3 separate regions of the Homo sapiens genome follow, and all the other regions are linked to region 3. The links come from fine-mapping of genetic effects on gene expression. A gene starts in region 3. Each other region holds a variant in brackets. All regions are shown on one strand. Distances are from middle to middle. Region 1 overlaps SPNS2 (SPNS lysolipid transporter 2, sphingosine-1-phosphate). Region 2 overlaps MINK1 (misshapen like kinase 1). Region 3 holds the start of MINK1 (misshapen like kinase 1).

Evidence for each region. PIP is the estimated chance that this variant, and not a neighbour inherited with it, causes the effect.
Region 1: its variant is fine-mapped to the expression of MINK1 in thyroid (GTEx, PIP 0.92).
Region 2: its variant is fine-mapped to the expression of MINK1 in whole blood (GTEx, PIP 0.98).

Annotation. Positions count from the first base shown.
Region 1 is chr17:4,508,100-4,515,692 of GRCh38, forward strand. SPNS2 (SPNS lysolipid transporter 2, sphingosine-1-phosphate) reads left to right here. Exons shown (of 13, transcript NM_001124758.3): 2 at 5,148-5,213. Among named protein-coding and RNA genes, the nearest start is that of SPNS2, 13 kb to the left of the region's middle. RefSeq lists enhancers at 1,347-1,406, 4,100-4,746, 6,103-6,760. The variant G/A (reference allele first, on the strand shown) is at 5,244.
Region 2 is chr17:4,850,195-4,861,466 of GRCh38, forward strand. The region is part of intron 1 of MINK1 (misshapen like kinase 1); the gene reads left to right. It also overlaps the pseudogene ATP6V0CP1. Among named protein-coding and RNA genes, the nearest start is that of MINK1, 22 kb to the left of the region's middle. RefSeq lists enhancers at 1-185, 3,652-4,603 and a silencer at 9,660-9,954. The variant C/T (reference allele first, on the strand shown) is at 5,041.
Region 3 is chr17:4,828,385-4,835,910 of GRCh38, forward strand. It overlaps MINK1 (misshapen like kinase 1), which reads left to right and starts at 4,956. Exons shown (of 32, transcript NM_153827.5): 1 at 4,956-5,256. The coding sequence starts at 5,200. RefSeq lists an enhancer at 4,013-4,799 and silencers at 4,777-5,246, 5,257-5,506.

The DNA.
Region 1 (7,593 bases), 320 kb before region 3:
TGCCCTTGAGGTTACAGGCACCACTTCACCAAGAGCCTCAGAGGAGAGAGGCGCAGGTATCCTGGTAGACGCGACTTTGGATCTGCGCCCTAGAGGTGAGGCAGGTCTTAATGGCTAGAGAGGGATAGCCTAGGAAGAGGCACAGCTGTGGCCAGGGCTGGGCGGCCTACAGCCTGTGATGTGTGATTCCAGGGAACTCAGAGCAGCCTGGCCAGTGGTTTCCAATCACCTGGGCAGTGCGTTTATAGATTCTTAGGTCCCACATCTAGAAAGGGTGACTCTGCAGATTTGGGGAGGGCCCCAGGAAGCTGTATTTTAATAAGCACCTTCCCTAAAGGTGATTGGGATTCTCAGGCAGGTTTGGGGATCTTCCCAGTCTCTGCATTTACACAGGAAGAAATAGGGGTCCAGGGAGGTGAAAAGTCATGGCTAGCAGCATTTCCCTTTGCCTGGAGTCAGGGGCTGTATGTGTGTGCGGTGGGCACTGTGGTTGGGAGAAGAGCTGGCTTAGGGCCAGACCGTGGAGGCCTCAGATGCTAGAATTCTGGGCGGCAATGGGGCTGCTAAGTGTGAGTGGGCAGCCGTACCCACTGGGCCAATACTCGTAGAACAGCGCCTGGCACAAAGTAGTTGGTGGATATGTGTCAATATGTGCATTGTCGCTGTTGTTATTGGTACCATTACTGAGCCAGGGGTCTGGGCCAGTGGATCTTAAAGGACTGATGGACGACTCTGAGGCCAGAGGTCACCAGTGGGCCACAGCGTTAGCTCCTTGAGTCCAGGCACTGTCTCGGGGTCTCTAGAGGCCCAGACCAGGACTTAGAACTCAGTAGGAGATTCGTAAGAGCTTGTGAGATCAGGCAGCAGGAGGGATGCCGGCTGGCCGGCAGGGGCTGGAGGCAGGGAGTCCAGGGAGGAGGCTGGACGATAAAGCAGATGGAGAATCACCGGGGCCCATTCATGAGGTGGAGGGAGCCAAAGGGGTATCCTGGCTGACTCCCAGGGTCCTGCAGTGTCCTACAGGGTCCGCTCAGGGAATGGGGACCCAGTGGTGAGCTGAGGAATCAGTCAGGAGGCTGGGAAACAGGGATGAGAGCGTCCAGGGGTTGAGCCTCCAGGAGGTGGTTGGTTTCAGAGGAGGAAAGGAGGTGAGAATATTGACTTGGGAAGGGAAAGAACTCTCCAGAGTTCTTAGCCAAGTGTCGTGGTCCACGCCTGTGGTCCCAGCTACTCGGGAGGCTGAGGCAGGAGGATGGCTGGAGCCCAAAAGGCTGAGGCTGCAGTGAGCTGTGATTGTGCCACTGCACTTTAGCCTGGGTCAGAGAGCAAGACCCTGTCTCAAAACAACAACAAATGCTGTCACCTGTGAAAGGAGGAGAGGAAAGGAACAGCTGGCAGAGGGGACAAGTCAGAGCTGTTCTCACCACCAGGGTGAGGGAGGTGTGGGCGTGTTTGTGGGCTGCTGTGCAGGAGCCGGAAGCCAGGGAGAGGCTGAGTGCACGGGCCCAAGCCAAGGACTGACCCAGCGCAGCCTCCCTGCCAGGCGAGAGAGACTGTTGGCCCAGAGTAGGGGACGTTGGCCTCAGACAAGAGGTGAGACCTCCTGGGGCTTGGGAGGTACGTAACTTGTCAATGGATGTTGTTCCAGAATGTTTTCTTGGGTGATGAGAACCCTGTGGCTAGGAGACGATTCCAGCTGTGGATTTGGGGTATGCCTGGAGAGGCCTGCATTGTGGCTGTGTTGGCTGGGGTCTGCATCTGGGGTAGGAACCCCACTTTGCATGCACGCCTGGCGGGGTGGGCTTGGCCTGAGCTGTGGGAGGCTGCTCCTGGGCGTGAGGCCCATCCTGTGACCCACCAAACCTCAGCCTCCAGGAAAGAGGCTAAAAATAAGGCTGTGGTGAAGAAGGGAGGGGTGCGTGGGCCTGAGCCGTGCTGGAGCCCAAAGGAAAATCTGAGGCGACCCGCCGAGCTGCTGTGACACACGCTTCCCGTGCCAGCGGCCAGCGGGATCTCACCCTCCTGTGGCTGTGGCCGCCTCCAGGCCCGGAAGAGGGAAAGCAAGCCAGAAAGGTTCAGCCCAGGTCCGACCTTGGGCCTCGCAGCCTGCAGGAAGCCCTGCTCCCTGGGAAGGTTCTCTCTGGTCTTCTTCCTGGAGCTTGGACTTGGACCCAAGACTGGGCGCTGGGGAGTGGTGGGACGGGAGCAGGCCATGTTATCCAAAAGCTTCCTGTGTCCTGGGAACTGCCCAGGACTTCCCAGAGACCTTAGACGCCCATCTGGATGTGGAGGAATGTTCTCCCTCTACCAGGAGCTCTATGTGGTAGGAAGTCAGGGGAAGGCTTCCTGGAGGCAGAGGCAAATCCTGGACCTTGAAGTCATCGGATGGGGAAGTGTGCCGCTGGATAGCTGGATACTGCAGGGAGGAAGCGAGAGTGCTTTGATTTGCCGTGGACACAGGATGTCATCATGATGGCTATTTTGATATGGCCTCCCTCCCAGAAATGGAACCTGCAGTTACTGCAGACCCGTGTCCCTCCTCTGGACTATGGATGGGGACCCTCCTGCCTCCTCCTGACTCCGCCCATCCTCTTGTCCACCCGACACCAAAATCGTGACTGTCCCTGCTCTGAGTCCTGGAGATGACCGGCCACGGCTCCTGCCTGGCTTGTGGTCTAGTGGAGGATGAAGAAACATTCACCCACGTGTAAAGTCCCTGTGGGTTATGTGTGTGCTGGGCCCTGGAGGACACCAGCAAACCACGCAGAAGGCAGCGTGGCAGGAGAACGAGCTTTGGTTTTTGGCAATAGACCTCGTTTCAGATCTCACCTCCAAAACAGAATGTACTGTGTGACAAATTACTTCATGTCTCAGAGCCTCGGTTTCTTCCTATATAAAATGGGATGAGAATCATAAATACCAGCACAGATAGTGAGGACAGCGTCTGTACCATCTTCAAAGCCTCACGCAGTTCCTTGGAACTTAGCGGGAAGCGGTAACTAGCGGCTCTCAGCTCAGGAGGAGCTCATAGCTGTGCTTCTGTGTGCATTCCCTATAGAACCCACTCATCCTGGTAGGCCCAGTGCTAAAACGAGTTTGGACAGGGGAAGAGTGGGGGCAACTAACTTATTGAGGGTGGTGGGAGGGGAGCAAGCAGGGGAGATATTCCAGAACAGGAGGCATCTGAACTGGCCTTGAAGAAGTGGCAGGAGTGAGCCTGGTTGACGGAGTTGTACCAGAATAGAAGAGGAAGTGTGCAGAGTCAGGGGGCCATGAGTAGTTTGGGGTGGCTAGTGGAGGGGTGGTGTCCTGAGAAGTGAGGCCGGAGGGCGGGGCTGGCAGGGCCACACCTTCACCCTGTGAAGTGACTGTGCCACAGAGGGATGGGATCAAACCTACACATCAGGAGGGGGAACAGAGTCCTGACCCAGAAAGGAATGGGTTGTGGGGCTGTGAGCCTCTGGGGCTGGGTCAGGGCACCTCAGAGGTCCCTCTTGCTGGCTCTGCCATCCACAGGCCTAGGATTGGCCCCGGCTTCTACCTTCAAGGCAAAGCCACAGCCTCTGCCTTGGTTATTAAGTCATTAACTGGGCCTCACACAGCCTCTTCATTACGGGTAATTATGGTCAACCCACTCAGGGCATTAACAAGGAGGAAGACAGCTTCTCTGGCTGTCAGGCTGCTGGGACATCCGCCCGTCTGTCCTGCATTCCGGGAAATTGCTCAGGATTCCAACCTGGGTCTCGGAAGGGACAGTGACGTTCCAGCCTCCCCACTCCTTCCACACCCCCAGTCCCAGCTGCCAGCAGGATCCTCATACAGCACCTGGAGATTCCACTTTTTCCTACTTCCCTGTGGTGTGACTTTGAGCCCACAGCCTGACTTCCTATGCTCCAGTTTCCTCATCTGTCAACTTGGATCCTAGTACCAGCCTCCTAGGGCTGTGTGGGGATTATACAGGCATTTAATGCTCAGTTCGGCAAACCATCATCTGTTGAATGCTGCCATCATCATCGTCATCATGAAGAGCTCTGGAGTCCCCCAAAGGCTTCTGTCCCTGCCTGTAAGGCCCCCAAAGGCAGGGCCATCTCCTCTTCCTTCTTCCGCTGTCCCTTCTCACTGCAGATGTGCTATGGTCAGCGGGGCTCTGGCCTGTGCCCTGGGTCCTCCTGTCCTCACAGATAATGCAGGCAGGGACCCTGAGGCCCACGGGGATGGGGGTTGTGCTTACTCAGGAGCCCTGGCTGAGTGCTGCGAGGGGTAGGAGGTCCAAGATCCTGCCTGTCCCCCAGAAGCCATGGCTCTGCCAGTCTGCTGGGGCTGTGGGTGGTTTCTGGGTGGTCCAGCTGCTGCCCCCACCCCGTGACGTGCAAAGCCCTAAAGTAGTTGGGCTTGGAAGCGGGTGTGGCCTCAAGAAATCCACTTCTCCCAAGAAAACGGGCCTGGAGCCCCGCCTGCTTCCCTCTGTACCCTGGGCCAGAATCTGAAAATGGAGGGGCCCGGTTATAATCCTGAGGGCAGCTGGGGTGACAGTGTGTGTGTGTGCGTGCGCGCGCACGGGTATGTGTGTGCGCGCGTGGGTGTGTATGCATGTGTGCAGGTGTGTGCACACACGTGCGTGCGTGTGCAGGTGTGTGTGTGCATGTACAGGTGTGTGCGTGTGTGTGCGAATGTGGTTGTGCACATGTGCAGGTGAACCAGAGTGAGCGGCTGCCCCTCCCAGGCCAGAGGGCTCCCCGCAGCTTTCAGGGCCCCCGCTGCTCTCTGAGTCATGGGCTTTGTGTTCCCCCTGAGGGAAAGGCCTATGTCTATTGCACTGATCCACGGCCTGGGCCGCAGGTAGGGAAGAGGCCCAAGCTGGCAGATAGGAGGTGTGGTTGCCCATGGGGCAGAATGACCGCAGAGGAGCCCTGCCTTTCCCTGCCCCTCGGGTCCTTGTGAGTGATGGGAACAGGCTGAGGACAGGAGGTCCCCGGGGAGGCAGGAGGGAAGCCTGGGAAACCTGGGCAGGGTAGAGGTCGCAGCAGAGCAGGAGTGCCGCAGATATGGCCAGGCTGGGCCCTGCAAGGCGGGAAAGAGGCTGGGCTGGTCTGTGGGGACACCAGCCATCAGACTCGGCCAGTGAGCACCCTCTGTCTTCCCTCCAGGCGTCCTTCTGGACATCCAGCAGCACTTTGGGGTCAAGGACCGAGGCGCCGGCCTGCTGCAGTCAGGTGAGGCCCACCTCCCACCTTCCCCCCCAC[G/A]CCCAGGCGTTGGCGTCGTGGGTCCTGTCCTGTTGGTCGTCATCTGCCACCCGGTCTGTCTTCCCCTGTCCTGACTCCTGGAAAGAGAGTGGGCTTTGCATCCCAGTCTCACTATTGCCACCTGCCAATGGCACTGCTTCTCTGAGCCTCTGCTGCTTTTCTTGTGTAACAAAATGAATAATACCTGCCCTGAGGGGCTATGGCAGGTAAAGGAGAGTGCAGGCAGAGGTTGCAGAGGTGAACTTTCTCTGGGTCCTGGGGCCTCATCGGGACCCAGTGATCCAGGCTCCCTCCTGAGGCTGGTGCAGGGAGCTCCTTAATTCAGTAAGTTGGGCAATGCCAGCAGAGCCGTGGTGACCCTGTTTTTATCTCCTGCCCTCCCCCACATTCCTTCCAATATCATCAACCCTGGGAATCGCCTCTTAGGTGACGAAGCAAAAAACTCCAGCTAGTCAGCCCCAGAGCGGTTCCCAAGCCCGGGGCAGGCGCCTGAGAATCTGGGCCCTGGACTGGACGTGGGCCTGAGGTTCCCTACCACCCTCTCCCCTGGGGCCCAGGCTTCTGATGGGCTGCCAGAGCAGGGCCTGAGCCCCCAGGCTGCTGGAAGCTGGGCCGGGACAGTGTGGGAGGCCATTAAGCACTTATGGCAGCCCACCAGCCCCTCCCTCCAGGGAGCGTGCCTCCCTTGTCCCTGCCTTCCCCATGACATGGCCCTGTGGGAGCTGGGCCCTTGGCTCCCTGGCCTTCCCACTGGCTGAGGCCATGTTGGCGATGCTCTTAGCAGCAACCTTCAGGCCTGGGCAGAGACTAAGGCCAGTGCTGCCACTCAGGGCTTGGGGCGGGAGGCCTGGTCCTGACTCTGCCCTAGTCATGCTGTGTGGCCCCAGCCTGGATCCTGCTTTCTCTGGGCCCTTGGCCCTGGAGTCCATCTGGCTGTGAGCCCCCGTCAGATGCAGGATGAGGTCCCCATGGTCTGCATTCCAGTCCAGTCGGTGAACCCCTTCCCCTGCCTGGGCCCTCCTGGGAGGGAGGGGGTGGAGTGAGCTCGTTCTGTCCAGGAACCTGCCTGACCTGTCTAAGTGGCATTCCAGTACTCACAATCCCTCCCGAGCTCACAGAATGCCACAGCCACTCCCCCCACCTCCCTTCCTAGCTGTCCTTACAGCCCAGATGGGGACTTTGGGGCTCAGAGAGAGGGGTTGCGATGGTTCTCAGGCTCAAGTGAGACTTGACTGTTCTAGGATGGGGCAGGGCCGTGCGGTCCAGTATCCCCTATAGGTGGCCAGGTCCCTGCCCTGGCAGACATCATGTTTTCCCAGGCCATGAGCCCAACGCCTCCCCTACCCCTTCCTGGGTCTCCCTGGCTAGGCCAGAATAAGTCTGCCTGCCCTGCCGCCTGAGACAGGTTCCTCTAGCCCTCTGGGCTGTGTGCATGCAGTGACCAGCACTGCAGCTGGGAAATGGAGTTCCAGCCACATGGGCGCATGGGAAGGAGTGGGCTGCCAGGCTGGCAAGGAAAGGGTGGGAGAAGGCCTAGCTGCCCAACCCCCGCCCTGTGTGGCCCCTGACTCACTGGGGACCTGGCCCGAGCCTCATCCCCCTCCTGGTCCCGGCCTCACTGCCTCATCTGGAGCAAGGCTCTACCCCACGCATCCTCCATTTAATGACCACTGAGCATGGTCGGGGCCAGCACAGCCCAGGGAGGGGGCGGGAGGTACAGGGAATGGTGGGGAGGGTCACAGGCCGGGCAGGGGGTTGGGGGCTCGGCTCAAGGCAGGTGTGAGGGTTCCCTGGTTCTTTCTGCGGTTCTGTCCCAGGCTGGCTTCTCGGGCTCATGAAAGAGAAGTCACTCCGTCCCTCCTCATCCCGGTGGCCTGGCTGGAGGTGGACAAAGCACACACAGGCATTGTCTTGTTTCATTCTTCCAGTAACCCTACGGGCTCTGTTTGTCAGCTGCACTTACCAGATACAGGGACAAAGGCCCAAGACAGGGAAATGGCTTGCTTGAGGGCTGGCAGTGGAGAGCAGCCGGCCTGGAATAGGGACCTGGGCCTCTGCCTCTGCTGCCCATAGGCTGGGGGGGAGCCTGGATACCTGGCATCTCAGTGTCCCCAGGGCGGGTGCCTCTGGGCCATGGTGAGAATTGCCAGCATTCTGAGGGACCCTCTAGTCTGTACACCATGGCCCTCACCTGTCACCTACCCCGGCACAGCTAGGATGGCTCCCCAGGGTGCCCTCACCCCTTTGGCCACCTAAGCCAAGAAGCCAGTCGAGTAGACCATGATGTTACTCAGTGGACAACTAGGCAAGTCACATAATTGGCCTGTGTCCCAGGCACCTGTGCCTTCCC
Region 2 (11,272 bases), 24 kb after region 3:
TGCCTCTACATAGCTGACACTCAGTGTTTGTTGAATGAATGCATGAGCTGGCTCACCAGGCCATAGATTTGGCATGAAAGGTGTCTGGGAAGGTTTCTTAGGATAAACAGGAGAGACAGGCCTGGTGAAAAGTTGAGTGAACATGTTTGCTCCATCCTGCTGGTCAGGAAGTTCCCCTTCTGTCTCACCTGCGTCTCTTCAGCTGTAATTTATCCTGGGTTGGTCCTTGGTGGGGCCAGAGAATATCTGGTCTCCACCCTTTGGAGAGTAACCCTGTTCTTTCTCAGAGTGTGATTCAGACAGTCCTTCCTCCCCTTCCTGCTGGCCCCCCCCGCCCTCTACCTGTTCTTCCTACAGCTGACTCAGCTTCACACCCTCTCCCTCTCCTTCCAGGATCTCTTTTCCTGTCCCCTTGTCCTTCAGAGCTTTCCTTCCTAAGTTTTCTCTCATGGCCTGTCATTGGTCTTCTGGAATTCGAAATCATATGGGTACAGGTCACAAGTTTTCTTGGTCATGAAGCTTCTCTAGTCTCTTCCTTGGGTTTGTGGACACCTGACTCCCACAGAAGGAGGCTGGCAATAAGATATAATGATCTGTTTGTGCTGCAATTGAAAACCAGCAGCAAGAAGCCTTATTATTATCCAACCCCTCATTACTAGTGTTGTCCTCCTCCGTTAGCTTGGTATCTGCCAGCCTGAACGGGCCTGGCATCTCCTTTCTGCCCCCTCCCACTGCCATGCTGTGCCCTTCCTTGCTCTCTCTGGTGTCTGCTTCCCAGGGACTGGCCCTCCTCCCTGCCCCTGTCAGCCTGCCTCCGAGGCCACAGATCTGGTTTTCCTCCCTTCTGTCTCACCTGCCTTCCTCTCAATTCTACTTTTTATCTTGTTTCTTCTCTCCTGAACTGCCACACTTCACCCTAAATCCCAGTAACGCCAACAGTTTTGGTAAATCACTTTTTGCCACAGTTTTGCCTTGCTTTGTGGGAGCCAGTTTCTTCATAATGACTCTATGCAAATTTGTAGCATTTTATGGATTTTAAAATGTTTCCACATCGGTGAATTCTTGTGAAATGGGCCTGGGTAGATAAGGAAAAGAACCTCCAAGAGGTTAAGTGATTTGCGGATTTGCCTAAATTATACAGAAGAGTCAGAACCAGTGCCCAGGCCTTCTGATTCTTAGTGCAGTAAACACTAAGCACCATCATTCCATTTCACCACACTCCTGTCTTGCTGTTGTCCTCAGCTAAGAAAGCCTACCCCTGAGTTACCCTCTTCCATCTTAGAGCCTTCCTGCTCGCTGTCTGCCCCCCTGCGATGGGGACTTCTTTGGCCCTTCTCACCCAGCCCAGCCTCTGCCCGTTTCCTTCTCCTTTCCACTGCGCTGAGCTCTTTTCTCCTCCGAGAAGCCTTCCCTTCATCTCTCCTGGCCCCATTGTCTCCCGACCTCTTTGGGCCATTATTAGTGTTCCCGTGTGGTTTTTGCCAACCACGTAGGAATTCCCTGCCTTAAGAAAGTCCACTCTCGGGCCGTGCGTGGTGGCTCACGCCTGTAATCCCAGCACTTTAGGAGGCCAAGGTGGGTGGATCACCTGAGGTCAGGAGTTCAAGACCAGCCTGACCAACAAGGTAAACCCTGTCTCTACTAAAAATACAAAAATTAGCCGGGTGTGGTGGCTTGTGCCTGTAATCCCAACTACTTGGGAGGCTGGGACAGGAGAATCACTTGAATCGGGGAGGCAGAGGATGCGGTGAGCTGAGATCACCCCACTGCACTCCAGCCTGGGCAACAGAGTGAGACTCTGTCTCAAAAAAAAAAAAAAAAAAAAAAAAAAAACTAAGAAAGTCCACTCTCTGGTAAAACATTTACCAAGCATATAAATTATGAGGTGCTGATTCATATGACAAAAAGGAGATTCACTTTTAGTAGCTGCTCTAATGCATTCCACTTAAGTGAATATTCAAGGATTATTTTGGAAGGATGGAGATAATCCAAAACTAGTGTGAGAAACTGCTGCATTAAGGAAGGAGGGAGGTTTTTCTAGATAACTGCTGCATTAAGGAAGGAGGGAGGTTTTTCTTTTATTTCTGTATTCATTCATTCCACAGACAGGTATTGAGGGCAGCCCTGACCTCCAAGAACTTAGTCTAGCAGAGGAGACAGATAAGAGAATCAATCACAAAAATGTAATTGGTGTCACGAAAGAGTCAGTACAGGGTATTGTGGGAGGAGAGGATTGTGAGGGGCACTTCCTGGAGGTGACATTGTCTCAGTGGAGGTCGGGAGGCACAGGCACGAGGCATCCAGGTAAAGAGGAGGAGAGTGATGAACAGCATGTGGAGACCCAGGAGTGAGAAGGAACAGAGAGAAAGCCACTAGTTAGTGCAGTGTTCCTGCCCCTCTGCCTCATCCCCACACCAGCAAGAACCAAAAGGCACCAGCATGAGAATTGGCAAGGCTCCAGGTAAACCATAGCTGGGATATTCAGCTGTACAGCAGTCATATGTGAGCCTGAGGAAGAACCTGTTTGGCCCACAGAGGGAGACAGAATCTACTGGGTGGGGGGGGTGTGATTTGTGGGGGAGTGTGGTTGATGGGTGGAGTGTGTTTGGTGGGGGAGTGTGGTTTGTGGGGGAGTGTGGTTGGTGGGGGAGTGTGGTTGGTGGGGGAGTGTGGTTGGTGGGGGAGTGTGATTTGTGGGGGAGTGTGGTTGGTGGGGGAGTGTGGTTGTTGGGGGGAGTGTGGTTGAGGGGGAGTGTGGTTGGTGGGGAGTGTGGTTGGTGGAGGAGTGTGATTGATGGGGGAGTGTGGTTGGTGGGGGGAGTGTGGTTGGTGGGGAGAGTGTGGTTGAGGGGGAGTGTGGTTGGTGGGGGGAGTGTGGTTGATGGGGGGAGTGTGGTTGGTGGGGGAAGTGTGGTTGGGGGAGTGTGGTGGGGGGAGTGTGGTTGGTGGGGGAGTGTGGTTGGTGGGGGAGTGTGGTTGAGGGGGAGTGTGGTTGGTGGGGGGAGTGTGGTTGGTGGGGGGAGTGTGGTTGGTGAGGGAGTGTGGTTGGTGGGAAGAGTGTGGTTGGTGGGGGGAATGTGGTTGGTAGGTAGAGTGGTTGGTGGGGGAGTGTGGTTGGTGGGAAGAGTGTGGTTGGTGGGGGAGTGTGGTTGGTGGGAAGAGTGTGGTTGGGGGGAGTGTGGTTGGTGGGAAGAGTGTGGTTGGGGGAGTGTGGTTGGTGGAGTGTGGTTGAGGGGGAGTGTGGTTGGTGGGGGGAGTGTGGTTGGTGGGAAGAGTGTGGTTGGTGGGGGAGTGTGGTTGTTGCTGTGTGCCATCGGAAGGCTATGCAAGTTTGAGCGCTTGCTTCACCTTGACAAACATTTCACTTGTTAGAGCCCTGGCTTTCTCATCTGTGCTCTGAGCTAGTCATTCCTGCCAAGCTTCCCTGCAGGTTTAAGTGCAGATGCAGTCATGACTGTGAAAGCACCCTGTGAACTGTAAAGTCTGGGCAGTTGGGTGGTGGTAGGAGAGGCAGCAACTGTGAGAGGATGAACTTGATTCTGCTGATCTCGGACGGAAACTGATTCTTGGGAGAGAGACAGAATCAAACGGCTCTGACATTTGAAAAGCCATGGCCTCGCTTACCTACAGTGAGACTTGAGAAGAAGTGCTGGGGAGGTAAAGGCTGAGATACCACCTCCGCTGCCTGAAAGACTTTGCAAGATACTCCAGCTGGGGATAGGAGATGGCTAGAATGACCTCCAACTATCTTCACACCCGAGGCTGGGGCTGCCCTTCCAGGCCTGCAGTTCTGTATTTTCCCTTAGAAGGTTCTGGAGGCAGACGGAACCTCAGAAGCAAACGGTTTATTTTTTAGGTTTTTCAGTTTATTTTTAAATTTCTGACTGTGATGGTGTTTATTTTTTCCTTTTCCCTTTCCCCACTTCCCCGGCTCAGCATCAGAAAGGGACCATCTGTCCGTTGCCTTGCTGTGGCCATTTTAGAACCAGCGCAAGGCTGCTTGAATCTGGTCCCCTCTTCTCCCTCACTCCCTCCCCCACCACCTGGCTTTCTCTACTCTGCACTGCCTGCTTTCATCCAGCTCCCTCCAGGTGTCAGCTGCCACCTCTTATAGGCCTCCATCTGTGAAGACCTCCAGGCTGAGTCCAGCCACCAGACCAGGGCCCCTGTCTGAGGCAGCCAGATCTGTGGGGAACCTAGACATGGAGGCAGCAAAATTACCCTTTGAGAGGAGGAGGGGAATAAATTCCAGTCTCCTTGCTCCAGGCAGGGCCCCTCTGCTCTGACTGGTTTCTGATGAGAATGGTATGTGTATTCATGTATGTGTCATGTCCTGACTTGTTTCTGCCTCTGCATGTACCTGCAAGTCAGTGTGTGTGTGCATGCGTGTGTCTCACACATCCCTCTGGCATAGAGATCCATGAGTGATTTATAAACTGCCTTTCCTCCCATCACATAAATATTTTTCCTGGTTTCTTCGCCTTCCTTCTACTTCTAGAACTGGCCTGATTTCCTCCCCTCCAGTGCTTCATTCCCATAAAAACACTTCAAAACACAGGTAGCCATCGATAGACAGAGGACAAGTACTTCACGTTGTGGATTCAGAATAAAAAGATCCGGTTGAGTTCCACAGTGTGAGAGGCAGGGTTAGCAGAGTGGAGAGTCTGTTTCAGAGAGTAAGAAGCGCTGAGAAAAGGAGTTTTTTTGAAGGCTTCATTAAAAAGAGTCCAGGCTGGGCGCGGTGGCTCCCGCCTATAGTCCCAGCACTTTGGGAGGCCCAGGTGGGCAGATCACTTGAGGTCAGCAATTCGAGACCAGCCTGGCCAACATGGTGAAACCCCATCTCTACTAAAAATACAAAAGATTAGCCGGGCGTGGTGGTGGGCGCCTATAGTCCCAGCTATTACTATACTTAGGAAGCTGAGGCAGGAGAATTGCTTGAACCTAGAAGGGGAGGTTGCAGTGAGCTGAGATTGTGCCACCACACTCCTGTCTTAAAAAAAAAAAAAAGGCCAGGCATGGTGGCTCACACCTGTAATC[C/T]CAGCACTTTGGGAGGCTGAGGCAGGTGGATCACGAGGTCAGGAGATCAAGACCATCCTGGCTAACAAGGTGAAACCCCGTCTCTACTAAAAATACAAAAAATTAGCTGGGCGTGGTGGCGGGCGCCTGTAGTCCCAGCTACTCAGGAGGCTGAGGCAGGAGAATGGCGTGAACCTCGGAGGTGGAGCTTGCAGTGAGCTGAGATTGTGGCATTGCACTCCAGCCTGGGCGACAGAGCGAGACTCCATCTCAAAAAAAAAAAAAAAGGCCGGGCACAGTGGCTCATGCCTGTAATCCCAGCACTTTGGGAGGCCGAGGCGGGCGGATCATGAGGTCAGAAGGTTGAGACAGCAGTGAAACCCCATATCTACTAAACATACAAAAAATTAGCCGAGTGTGGTGGCAGGTGCCTGTAGTCCCAGCTACTCGGGAGGCTGAGGCAGGAGAATGGCGTGAACCTGGGAGGCGGAGGTTGCAGTGAGCCGAGATCGCGCCACTGCACTCCAGCCTGGGCGACAGAGCAAGACTCCGTCTCAAAAAAAAAAAAAAAAAAGAAAGAAACCCCATCTCTACTAAAAATACAAAAAAAATCAGCTGGATGTGGTAGCAGGCACCTGTAATCCCAGCTACTCAGGAGGCTGAGGCGGGAGAATCACTTGAACCTGGGAGATGGAAGTTGCAGTGAGCTGAGATCATGCCACTGCACTCCAGCCTGGGTGACAAAAGCGAGACTCTATCTCAAAAAAAAAAAAAAAGTCCAGTTGATGGTGGTATATCATGGACAGTAGGAAATTGATGAGGGTATCAGCCTGCCTTCTCTCTTCCTTTCATTTGCTCAGTGGAGAGATGCTGGTGACCCCTTCTCCTTCTCTCGCCATAGGAACATTTAATCTGTCTCATGCTTTGGCTTTGGGCCTGCCATTCACCCCAAGCACCTTGGGGTATAAGTGGGGATGATGCTGTCTACCTGCTTCCTAGTTGGCTCTGGGGTAAATGGAGACTTCTTCAGGCCTGGGAGGCCACCTCCCATTGAGAAAGGCAAGCATCTCGCGCTCTACTTACCCTCTGGGTCCTTGAGGGGCTGTGTCCAGTATCTCTGCTTGGGTAGGAAGGAGGTGATCTTATCAGACTTTTCCTGCCACTTCCCTGTCTCCAGCTCACACACCCACTCCCGTTTTCTCTCTCTTACGTACTCACACTCTCTTTTTTTTTTCTTTCCCTCCCCCGACATCTGAGAACTTTATCAGACACAGCTGCCGCACAGGGCCTGGCAGCGCGGGCTGGAGAGGGTGGTTCCATCCAAGGAGCCTCCGCAATGGGAACCTCCATGACGTGACAGATAGGTGGGAGATGAGGGCTGCTCCACAGGGGTATGGACAGGCCAAATCTTTATAAATATCTAATGAAGAGAAAATGACAACTCTAATTCATCCTTATACATAGAGTACTCAAGGGAGATGGGTGGGGCATCCAGGGGCCTGAGTCCTCACTGGTCGGGGACCTGGATGGGTGATGAGTAGGTTCAGATGTCCACAGCATGGGGCGGGAGGGGGCAAGGCCTGGCCAACAGACGATGAACACGAGGACACTGTACACTTAGAAGATCAACTACTGAGGGCCAGCTGCCCAGCACATGCGTGTCAGGCTGTTTGTTCCGGAATGAGGAGGGGTGGTCTTTACATCGTATTCTGTGACTGGTGGGTTTTGAGAGGGGCTGCTTTGTGGAGAGAATGAGCACCTTGGCAAAGATGAGGATCAGTATCATGCCTACAAATAGTCGGGGCTGCTGGGCAGTGCCACACTTGCCAGTGTCCCCCACGATGACGATGGCAAAGCCGGCTGCCAGGCCACTCAGGCCAGCGCCCAGCTGGAGGAAACTGCTATAGAGACTGTTGTCATCATTCAGGGAGTTGGCAGGGGGGACAGCCGCCACTAGGCCATAGATGGTGATGATACCAGCCATGACCACTGGGATGATGGACTTCATGTGGATCAGCTCTGGCCACATGACAGACATGGCCATGATGCCGGTGCCATTCTTGGCCATGCCACAGGCAGCACCCAGGCCACTGGAGACCATGGTGGCCATAGCACCCGAGATGGTGAAAACCAAAGCATACTCGGGGCTGTTGTTGGACATGTCTGTGAGTGGGGAGGGGGACAAGGATGGGCATGGCAGAGAGTGAGTGCAAAGACAGTGGACTAGTGGCAGCAAAGATGCTGGTTTTTTTTTTTTTTTTTTTTTTTTTTGAGATGGAGTGTCACTCTGTAGCCCAAGCTGGAATGCAATGGTGCGATCTCAGCTCACTTCAACCTCTGCCTCCAGGGCTCAAGCCATTCTCATGCCTCAGCCTCCCGAGTAGCTGGAACTATAGGCACGCACCACCATGCCCAGCTAATTTTTTGTATTTTTAGTAGAGATGGGGTTTCACCATGTTGCCCCGTATGGTCTCAAACTCCTGAGCTCAGGCAATCCGCCAGCCTTGGCATCCCAAAGTGCTGCGATTATAGGGGTGAGCCACCGCGCCCAGCCAAGATGCTCTTTCTTACCACACACACACCCTCCTATTTCTTTTCTTATGCACACACACAGACACACACACAGCCTTTAGCTACTCCTAATTGAAGGGTGCCTAAGACACCACCCTTCTGTCAGAATACTTGCCCCTACTTCCAAATCTCTGCCAGTACTGTATCCTTGTGGAACTTAACTTAAATTGTTGGGGAGACCCCATCTGTCCTTTGTCTCTCAGGCCCTTATCCCTTCCCCTGTGGTGGCTTCAGAATATCTCCTACAGATGGGGTTTAGGGTTAGTAATCTGGTGGTACTGGGGCTAAGGGATAGGTTTTAAAGCTCCATTTGCATAGCAGTCACTATTTTAACACTTAGATTGTTGGTGTTTTGGGGTGTCTTTAAGGGAGCTGATGAATTTATGGGAGGCTAAATATCCCCTCCCCCACTGGGTATAGCCACTGCCTTTGCCCCCCTCTTCCTCTCTGTGTGGGCCTTCTGGATTACAGGAAGAGCTCAGGAAAACAGGCCTATTGTTTTCATCTGGGAGGGGGGAGGGCCTCCCAGGCCAGCTCAGGCTCACTGTCCTTTGAACTGGTACCCGATAAACAGAGGCTCCAAGACGCTGGCAGCCTTGTTCTTCCAAGGCAAGGGAGTTATTTGGCTTGAGACTTTATTCTGTTCTGCCAGCTCTTGTTGGTTCCCTGTTTATTTTTTTTTAATTTAAATTTAATTTTTTTTTTTTTTTGAGACGAGGTCTTGCTCTGTTGCCCAGGCTGGAGTGCAGTGGTGCAGTCTCGGCTCACTGCAACCTCCGCCTCCCAGTCTCAAGTGATTCTCATGCCTTACCCTCCTGAGTAGCTGGGATTACAGGCATGCACTACCATGCCCAGCTAATTTTTGTATTTGTAATAGAGATGGGGTTTCACCATGTTGGCCAGACTTGGTTCCCTCTTTAGACCACAAGTTCCCATTCTCTTTCCCTAGTGTCCTATGAAATTCTCTTCTCCCGCTTCCGCATCTGTTTTTCTCTATCACAGGTTTCTCAGAATCTTTCTGGCTGCTGTATAGTCAGTCCTGGTATGGTTAGTAACAGCAGGAAGCCTGCCTTTTTGGAAGTACAAGGAGCTAGGAAAGGAGGGGTCTCTCCCAGACTAGAGAGGTCTTCTCCCCTAGCCTCACAGCTAGCTGACTCTGCCTTGTCCTCCCAACACCCGGGATTCCCCCCGGCCCCTCCCAACACCAGGCACCCGGGGCAGCCCCACCTCCTGCCCTGTTTCCTGTCAGGGGTAGGATGGCACCTTGCCTGGGTCTGGGAACAGCACTGGCTCTAGCAGCAGGACCTGCCGGGGCATATCTGAGTGAATAATCATTGCTGGGCTCGAAGCACAGGAGAGACCAGTCCTTCCTTGTCTCCACTGGGCTGTTTAGTGCTTCTTTCCCAAGGACTTCCATCCCTTCCCCAGGCTTTATGGTTCCAGTTCTTCTACCATTCTGGAAGCTCCCTAGAATCTCCTGGAATGCTTAATGGACCTTTCCAGCACCGAAATTCAAGAATTATGACTCATCGGTCAGCAGAAAAGTGAGGATACCTTTTCCTAACCTACCTGCTTCCCCTGCAGTTTCCTCACAATCTTACTCTTTATATTTTAGCATATGTAACTTCTCAGGATGTTAATTCTGTTCTCTCTGTGTTGGTGTCTGAGCACCCAGAAGGTAGAGCCAGGGGCACTTATAAACCAGGAGCATTATTTGACAGGCACTTAAGAAAGACACTGGCTACGTAATCCCAGCACTTTGGGAGGCTGAGGCGGATGGATCACATGAGGTCAGGAGTTCGAGACCAGCCTGGCCAACATGGTGAAACCCTGTCTCTACTAAAAATACAAAAATTAGCTGGGTGTGGTTGCACACGCCTGTAATCCCAGCTACCTGGGAGGCTGAGGCAGGAGAATCGCTTGAACTTGGGAGGCGGAGGTTGCAGTGAGCCTAGATTTTGCCATTGCACTCCAGCCTGGGTGACAAGAGCGAAACTCCATCTCAAAAAAAAAAAAAAAAAAAAAAAAAAAGATGCTGGCTAATATTGATAATAACAGTTTGCATTTGCTAAAGTACTTAAAAAAAAAACCTTTACCCCTCAAAGGGTTTCATCTACATGCAAAACCAACACCGTAGGAACTACTTTCCGCATGCGGAGCCGGGTACAGAGGGAAGGGGCGCGTCCGGGAACTACTTGCCGCATGCGGAGCGGGGTACAGAGGGAAGGGGCGCGTCCGGGAACTACTGGCCCCATGCGGAGCGGGGTACAGGGGGAAGGGTCGCGTCCGGGAACTACTTGCCGCATGCGGAGCGGGGTACAGAGGGAAGGGGCATGTCGTTAGAGGAGCTACTGTTAGTGGAATGAGGACGGGTAGCCAGAGTTCTCATCTGCCAGCTCCAGGCCACTTCCAAGAAATGTGACCCCCAAGCCTCTGGTGCTTGCCTCCTTCTGCTCATTCAGTCGTCCACCTCTTTCATTCTGGATTCCACCATGAGTCCAGGCCTCTCCTGCATTTCTAGATTTCCACGTGCTGATTGTGAGGGACTGACGGGGGTTTCACCTTCTCTCCTTTTCCTGGCCCCACAGCCTTGGCTCACGCTTCCTAGGCTCTGAGTTTCAGTTCGTGTCCCAGCCTCCCAACCGGACAGCGTTCTGGAAACAGTTTATGCATGAACTCTTGCATTTTCTCTTGGGAAATAATCAAACCCTTTGTTTCTAATCTCCTCTCAGTCTGTACTACTACTACTACACTAACATGACTTTGGTTTTGGGGAAAGGAAAGGAAAATGTCTGTTGATGCTGGGCCCCAGGCAGCACCGTGAGAGCTGCAACGGGCTCACATTTGCCCCTAGTTTTTCCTCCAGGTAGGAGCTGTGGGAGGAGTCCAGGGAGTCCCTTGAGGCTGAGCAGAGCAAAGAAGCAAGGGCTCAAGGCTGGTGTGTGCCTGGTTCTCCCCTGGTCAGTTCTAGGGAGCAGAGACCGTGGTGCAGGTGGAAGGACCACGGCGCTGTGTCCCTTAACTGTACAGCACCAGTGCGCGCCACGTGCTGGGGAGATGCCGAAGCCTTAGGGAGCAACTTCGGGAAGCTTTTGAAGCTGGGGAAACTAATACACTTGAAATAGTTAAAGGGGGATTTAAGGCAGAGGAGCAGAGTCTGAGGGGACAGCTCGTGCCCTCCCCTTGCCTGCCTCAGGCCACCAGCTTTGTGCCTCTTCTCTCCCTCCAGCCCTTGTTCCTCAGCTTCTTCTGAAAAGCTTTCCTTGAGCAAACCCAGCTCCGCCTTGCTCTGTCTGGCGTTGAATCATTAAATCAGCGACGATTTGGTGACCTCGTATATACTCAGAACATACCTGGAGCTGTGAGGGGAACAGGAGCAAACCACAGGCAGCTCCCTAGTGAGGCGAGTGCAGTGTCACCAGGACGTGCTGCTTGGGGCCAGCCTGGTGTGGCCAGTGCCTTGCATTGTATGCGGAGCTGCGAGAGACGAGACATCTACCAAGAGTTTCTGCGTTAACATCACTGTTGGCTCTTCATAGCTGAGCAAAGCAATATGTACAATTATACATCGTAAACAACGCAGGGCACAGTGCCAGGCGACATCTATTTCGACCCACATGAGGCGCTCTGTCTGTTATTCCAGAGCCCCACCTTTCAATAATTGAGTCCAACACTTGTATGG
Region 3 (7,526 bases):
TTTTTTTTGGGGATGGAGTCTCGCTCTGTCGCCCGGGCTGGAGTGCAGTGGCATGATCACAGCTCACTGCAACCTCCGCCTCCCGGGTTCAAGCAATTCCCCTGCCTCAGCCTCCCACCTAGCCGGGATTACAGGTGCACACCACCACGCCCAGCTAATTTTTGTATTTTTCATAGAGACAGGTTTTCACCATATTGGTCAGGCTGGTCTCGAACCCCTGACCTCAGGTGATCCACCCGCCTCAGCCTCCCAAAGTGCTGGGATTACAGGCATGGGCCACGGTGCCTGGCCACCTTCATTGCTTAAGTGTTAGTGATTTTCTTTCTTTTGTTTTTTTTTTAAGCGTTATTGATTTTCTAGTGGGTGCCAGGCCATGTGCTGAACAAGACTAATATTATTCCTGCTTTTAAGGAGATTCAAAAGACATTTACAATTCAAATCATTAAATGTTACCATGGACTAAAGCCAGGCAGCTAAAACAGAAGAACCAAACTTAGTCTTGGTGAGTCAAGGAACGCTTCATGGAGGAGGTGATTTAGACACGTAGGACAAAGCAAAGCACGGTAAGAATGGGCATGGTCAAGAGGCTAGGGAATATTCCAAAGAGAAAACAGAGTACATGCAAAGGTTGGGGGAGAGAAAGTTGAGTTCTGGGAAGTGAGTAGAGTATTTCAGTATGGCTGGAAAATGTGAGGTCTAATAGTTGAGTATTGAAAAGTAAGGCAGGCACTGAGCAGGGTGGTTCATGCCTATAATCCCAGCAACTCAAGAGCCTGAGGCAGGATTAACACTTGAGCCCAGGAGTTGGAGGCTGCCGTAAGCCATGATCGTGCCACTACACTCTAGCCTGGGTGATAGAGCAAGACCCCAACTCCTAAAGAAGCAAACCGTTAACAAAGAAAAAGAAGGCAAGAAAAGCCAGCAGAATCTTGAAGGGTCTTTGATGCCACACTTTGCCTTTTTTTTTTTTTTTTTTTTTTTTTTTTTTATGAGACAGAGTCTCACGCTGTCACCCAGGCGGGAGTGCAGTGGTGCAATCTCAGCTCACTGCAACCTCTGCCTCCTGGGTTCAAGCAATCCTCTTGCCTCAGCCTCCCAAGTAGCTGGGATTATAGGCACACCCCACCACGCCCGGCTAATTTTTTGTATTTTTAGTAGAGACGGCATTTCACCATGTTGGCCAGGCTGGTCTCGAACTCCCAATCTCAGGTGATCCACCTGCCTCAGCCTCCCAAAGTGCGGGGATTACAGGTGTGAGCCACCATGCCCAGCCAATCTGGTTTTTGTTTTGTTTTGAGATGGAGTTTCGCTCTTGTTGCCCAAGCTGGAGTGCAATGGCATGATCTCGGCTCACCACAACCTCCGCCTCCCAGATTCAAGAGATTCTCCTGCCCCGGCCTCCTAAGTAGCTGGGATTACAGGCATGCGCCACCACACACGGCCAATTTTGTATTTTTAGTAGAGACGGGGTTTCTCCATGTTTGTCAGGATGGTCTCGATCTCTTGACCTCGTGATCCACCTGCCTTGGCCTCCCAAAGTGCTGGGATTACAGGCGTGAGCCACCGTGCCTGGCCTTTTTTTTTTTTTTTTTTTTTTGAGACAGAGTCTCGCGCTGTTGCCCAGGCTGGAGTGCAGTCGCCTGCCTTGGCTTCCCCAAGTGCTGGGATTGCAGGCATGAGCCACCACGCCCGGCCAATTTTTTTTTTTTTTTTTTTTGAGACGGAGTCTTGCTCTGTCGCCCAGGCTGGAGTGCAGTGGCACGACCTCGGCTCACTGCAAGCTCCGCCTCCGGGGTTCACACCATTCTCCTGCCTCAGCCTCCGGAGTAGCTGGGACTACAGGCGCCCACCACCACGCCCGGCTAATTTTTTTTTGTATTTTTGGTAGAGACGGGGTTTCACCGTGTTAGCCAGGATGGTCTTGATCTCCTGACCTCGTGATCCTCCCGCCTCAGCCTCCCAAAGTGCTGGGATTACAGGCGTGAGCCACTGCACCCGGCTTTTTTTTTTTTTTTTTTTTTGAGACGTTGTCTTGCTCTGTCACCCAGGCTGGAGTGCAGTGGCACGTTCTCGGCTCACTGCAACCTCTGCCTCCCGGGTTCAAGCGATTCTTCTGCATCGGCATCCCGAATAGCTGGGATTACAGGCGCCTGCCACCATGCCCGGCTAATTTTTGTATTTTTAGTAGAGACATGGTTTCACCATGTTGTCCAGGCTGGTCTCAAACTCCTGACCTCAGGTGATCCACTCGTCTCGGCCTCCCCAAAAGTGCTGGGATTACAGGCGTGAGCCACTGCACCCGGCTTTTTTTTTTTTTTTTTTTTTGAGACGTTGTCTTGCTCTGTCACCCAGGCTGGAGTGCAGTGGCACGTTCTCGGCTCACTGCAACCTCTGCCTCCCGGGTTCAAGCGATTCTTCTGCATCGGCATCCCGAATAGCTGGGATTACAGGCGCCTGCCACCATGCCCGGCTAATTTTTGTATTTTTAGTAGAGACATGGTTTCACCATGTTGTCCAGGCTGGTCTCAAACTCCTGACCTCAGGTGATCCACTCGTCTCGGCCTCCCCAAAAGTGCTGGGATTACAGGCGCAAGCCACCGTGCCCGGCCAATTTTTTGTATTTTTAATAGAGACAGAGTTTCACTATGTCTGCGAGGCTTGGCCGGTTGTGGTGGTTCACGCCTGTAATCCCTGCACTTTGGGAGGCCAATGCAGGTGGATCACCTGAGACCAGGAGTTCGAGACCAGCCTGGCCAACATGATGAAACCCCGTCTCAACTGAAAATACAAAAAATTAGCTACGCGTGGTGGCGTGCACCTGTAATCCCAGCTACTCAGGAGGCTGAGATAGGAGAATTGCTTGAACCCGGGAGGCGGAGGTTGCAGTGAGCCAAGATTGTGCCACTGCACTCCAGCCTGGGCAACGAGAACAAAACTCTGTCTCCACCAAGGTGACATTTTCCACCCTGTGTCCTGTTCCCCAATAAAAACAAATTCACAAATTCACAAAAAAACTAAACTAAACTAAAACTGTCTAAAAAAAAAAAAAAAAAAAAAAAAACAAACAAAAAACCCCACCATGTTGGCCAGGCTGGCCTCCAACTCCTGTCCTCAAGGGATCCTGTAATCTCCGCATTTTGGGAGGCCGAGGCAGGCAGATCACTTGAGGCCAGGGGTTTGAGACCAGATTGGGCGACATGGCAAAGCCCCATCTCTACAAAACATATAAAAATCAGCCAGGTGTAGTGGCATGCGCTGCCTGTAGTCCTGGCTACTTGGGAGGCTGAGGTTGGAGGATAGCTTGAGCCCAGAAGCTTGAGGTTGCAGTGAGCAGAGATCATACCATTGTACTCCAGCCTGGGTGACAGAGCGAGACTTTGTCTTTAAAAAAAAAAAAATAGAGGCTGGGCACAGTGGCTGACGCCTGTAATCCCAGCACTTTGGGAGGCCGAGGCGGGCGGATCACGAGGTCATGAGATCGAGACCATCCTGGCTAACATGGTGAAACCCCGTCTCCACTAAAAATACAAAAAATTAGCCGGGCGAGGTGGCGGGCGCCTGTAGTCCCAGCTACTCAGGAGGCTGAGGCAGGAGAATGGCATGAACCCGGAAAGCGGAGCTTGCAGTGAGCTAAGATCGCACCACTGCACTCCAGCCTGGGCGACAGAGTGAGACTCTGTCTCAAAAAAAAAAAAAAAAAAAAAAAAATAGAATTGACTTGAAGGAGTCAGGCCGGAAGGCCAAATAGGAGATGAATGGGGATAGCGGCTTGAATAAGGGCAGTGGCAAGGAAAATGGGCTAGGGGTTAGGGAAGGGGGCCGACTGGCTGTGCACCCAAATGCTAAAAACGGTCCAGAAAGGAATGTGTTCAGCTATTTTTCAAGGACTTCTAAATTAAACTCTCTTAAATGATGTTTATATTAAGGCTGGTGGTGGAGTCTTTCAGAGGCAGTGTTGGTGCTAGAAGAGCTCTTGAGGATCATACAGCCTCCCCCCTCAATTTCACAGTGAAAGAAAACCTCAGAGAAGCAAAGCAACTTGCTCAAGGTCACACAGCATTTCAGTGGTAGAACATGACTCGTGGTTCTTAGATAGCATTACCCAGCCTCCACTGAGGCTAATGGCTGTAGGCGCTATGCCAACATGACTAGATCTAAGGTGACCCAAGCTATATTTTAAGGGACTGAACGCAGATTCCCTCTCTTCCCCTTCGCCACCCCTTCCTCCACGCGCGACTCCAGTGATCAATGAATAATTGTGGAAACAGTTCCTTTGTGCAGAACACTTTGTTAAAAGAGGTGCAGAGATACACGTCTGCGGTAGGATTCCTTATCCTGAGATCTGAGAGCACCTCGATGCTTCCCCAACCTGCTAGGTGAGGGTGGAAAGGGCATTCCTGAGGCAGCCGGTGCCCCTCCTCTGCCCCCCAACTCCCACGTGGTTTCTCCAGCCAAGTTCTCACGGAGTGGCCCCTCCCTCAGCGGCTCCACTGTTGCCATAGCAATTGGGTGGGTGGACAGCCCGTCCTATCTAGAGGCCACCCAGCCCTCGCGTGGGGAGTTACCATAACAACCCCCTAGTAATAGAGGGGGTTGGGTACCGCCCCCTTCCCCCGCAAATGGAAAGGTGGGTGGCTTGATTGGCAGCTGGGCACACGAAAGAAGGAGGGAAAGGGAAGGAAAGGCGTCAAAGGAGATCTGAGAAGGAAATAAGGGAGAGAAAGGGCAAAAAAAATAGGGAAAGAAAAGGAAACGCGTGTGCGCACGCGCACCAGCTGGTGGGCGCGCTCCGCGGCCGCCTCGGCCGCCGCCCACTTCTTTCACGCCAGGCTCGCGCGGTCGCTCCGTCCTCGCGCGCGCCTTTCGCCTGCTCGCCTGCGCCTGCGCGCAGGTGTCGGCGCCTAGGGGGAGGGGGCCCCGGCGCGCTCGCGTCACGCTCGCGCTTCCACCCTCCCAGTGCGCGGTCGCTCCGCGCCTGCGCAGGAGAGGTGGTAGGCTCGGGTGGCTGGCTCCGGGGAGATAGCGCCTGTCAGTCGGTGGGTCGGTCCTCGCGCCGGCCCTCCCCCTCCCCGGTCTCCGGGGGAGGCGCGGTGGAGTCCGCCCCCGGGGTTCTCCGATGGGGGAGAAGCGGCGACGGCGGCAGTGGAGTAACCGAGCCGGAGCGTGAGCGGCCCCGGTGCCCCGTTCCCCACGGAGGCCATGGGCGACCCAGCCCCCGCCCGCAGCCTGGACGACATCGACCTGTCCGCCCTGCGGGTGAGCGCGCCGTCCCCCAGCCTCGCCCTGGTTCCTGTCCCCGCCGCAGGGGAGGGAGCGGGGTGGCTGCACGCCTCACGTGCTCCCGGGCGCCCCCTCCACCAGCTTGGGTCCCCTTGGCGACCCGTGCCCCTTTCCCGGACTCCCGCCGCGGCTGGGCCCCCGCCCTCTGCTCCCTTCTCTCTCCACTGGCTGCAGATGCTGGGAGCCAGTTCGGTCCCCACCCTGTGGTGCCCCGCCCCCACACTTCCGTGCCACCCTACCTTTACTCTGGGGTTCGGGACCCACTGGTTCGCCTAAACTTAGCCTCCCCCATCACCTGGAGAACCTTTATTGTGGTTCCTTACCTCCTTTCGGCCCTTTTCCACCTTTGCCCTTACTTCTATCTTCTTCCTTCCCCTCCTCTTCCTCAGCTCCTGGAATTTTGACTTTGCAACTGTCTCGACAGCCTCTCTCTCATCCCTCTTTCTCTGCCTCGCCCACCCTTGAATTGCATCCTTTCCCTGGTCGGAATTTCAGCTACCCCACCCCTCGTGCCGTCACCCTCAATCCCATGTTCAGTTTTCCCTATCCCTTCTCTCCTGTTTCAAGTGCAGCAGTTCAGAACCAGGCATTTCCGGTCTCAGGGTCCCTGAATATTACATGACCAACTCTGCAGCAGCGTGGGGCTGGGAGCCCTCGGGGAGGAGGGGAGGCATTTCTTCTCTTTGGAAACTGTAGCACGGGCTGGGAAGAGGATGTTTACACACACACACACGCGCACACACGACACATGCTACATGTGGTCAGGCTGAAGGTTTGGAAAGGCAGTGGGTGTTTATGTTAGCTAAAGGCTGGAAGCAATGGAGACCTCTCAAGGTAGGGGCTAATAAGGAAAGGGGTTGAGAGGAAGCAAATGCTGCAGGAATTTCTTGGAAATACCCGTTCATTGTCCCTTGTGGGGCACTTACACACTCTGGTGGAAGAGCTTTCTGTAGCATTTATGTTTTTCTTCGGCAGGGAGCTTTGGCTTAAGGGGCAACTTAGTGATTTCAAGGTGAACACTCCAGACTATCAGCCAGGTGGTGTTTTGATCCTGTGCCCTTCCAGCGCTCTCACCAGGCCAAGGTGTGGGGAGAGCAGGACTTCCCATCTCTAGGTTCGCTTCTCTGGAGGCCCCTGCTCAGACTGTCTTCTGGCTTTTGAGTCAGCCAGGGAACATGGCCAGTAGTGGGAAAAGGCGGTCAGCCACACAGGTGCCCCGGATATGGCTGGAGGGGAGAGGGGAATTGAAGAGAGCAGAGTCATGTTGTTAATTGGGTTTCTCTAGGTGACACAGTTTTTTTTCTTCCCATTTTCAGGTCATAATTTGTTTGGTGCAATGTTGGGCTATGAGACCTGACTTGCTGGAGATAACGTGATAAATTTCTGGGGAGAGGGACTGAACGCTGAATTTCTCTGTGTGCGCAGGCACATGTGTGTGTGTTGATGAGGAGAGGGTCTGAAGGCTTTAGGAGGGAGATTCTTAAGGTCAGCTTGGCCAGGGTTTAAACTGGGATGCCCAAGTCGGGATATAAGATGGAAATCCAGATTCTGAGTAAAAGTCCCTTAATGTGCTCCATTCTGGGATGAACTTCCACCTTTCCTTCCTACCTTGGTTATTGATTAACTGGCTACAGGTTCCTGTGGCTGGGGTGACTAAAATACAATAAAAAATGGGTGGGTCAGGCCGGGCGAGGTGCTCACACCTGTAATCCCAGCACTTTGGGAGGCCGAGGTGGGGCATCACCTGAGGTCAGGAGTTCGGGACCAGCCTGGCCAACACTGTGAAACCCCATCCTTACTAAAAATACAAAAATTAGCCACACGTGGTGGCACACACCTGTGATCCCAGCTACTCAGGAGGCTGAGGCAGGAGAACTGCTTGAACTGGGGAGGTGGAGGTTGCAGTGAGCCAAGATTGCACCACTGCACTCCAGCTTGGGCGACAAAGCGAGACCTTGTCTTAAACAAAACAAAACAAAACAAAAAAACGGGGCGGGTCCAAACCACAACCTTTGCTTTGAACCTTGTGGGACTCTGCTTGGGTTTCTCTTTTAGCCTCTTTTGGTAGTTTGGCCTGGACCCTCAACCTGGGATTTCCAGCAATTCCACAAATACCCTCTGACCTTAGATGTGGTATTTCCCTTCTGGACTTCTCGGCTTGAAGCAATGTTAGCCTTCCTCAGTTGCCTCCAGCCTTACTCTCCTCTCCCCTCAGGAGACCGGGTGACCTGCTCCCAGTGCTTCTG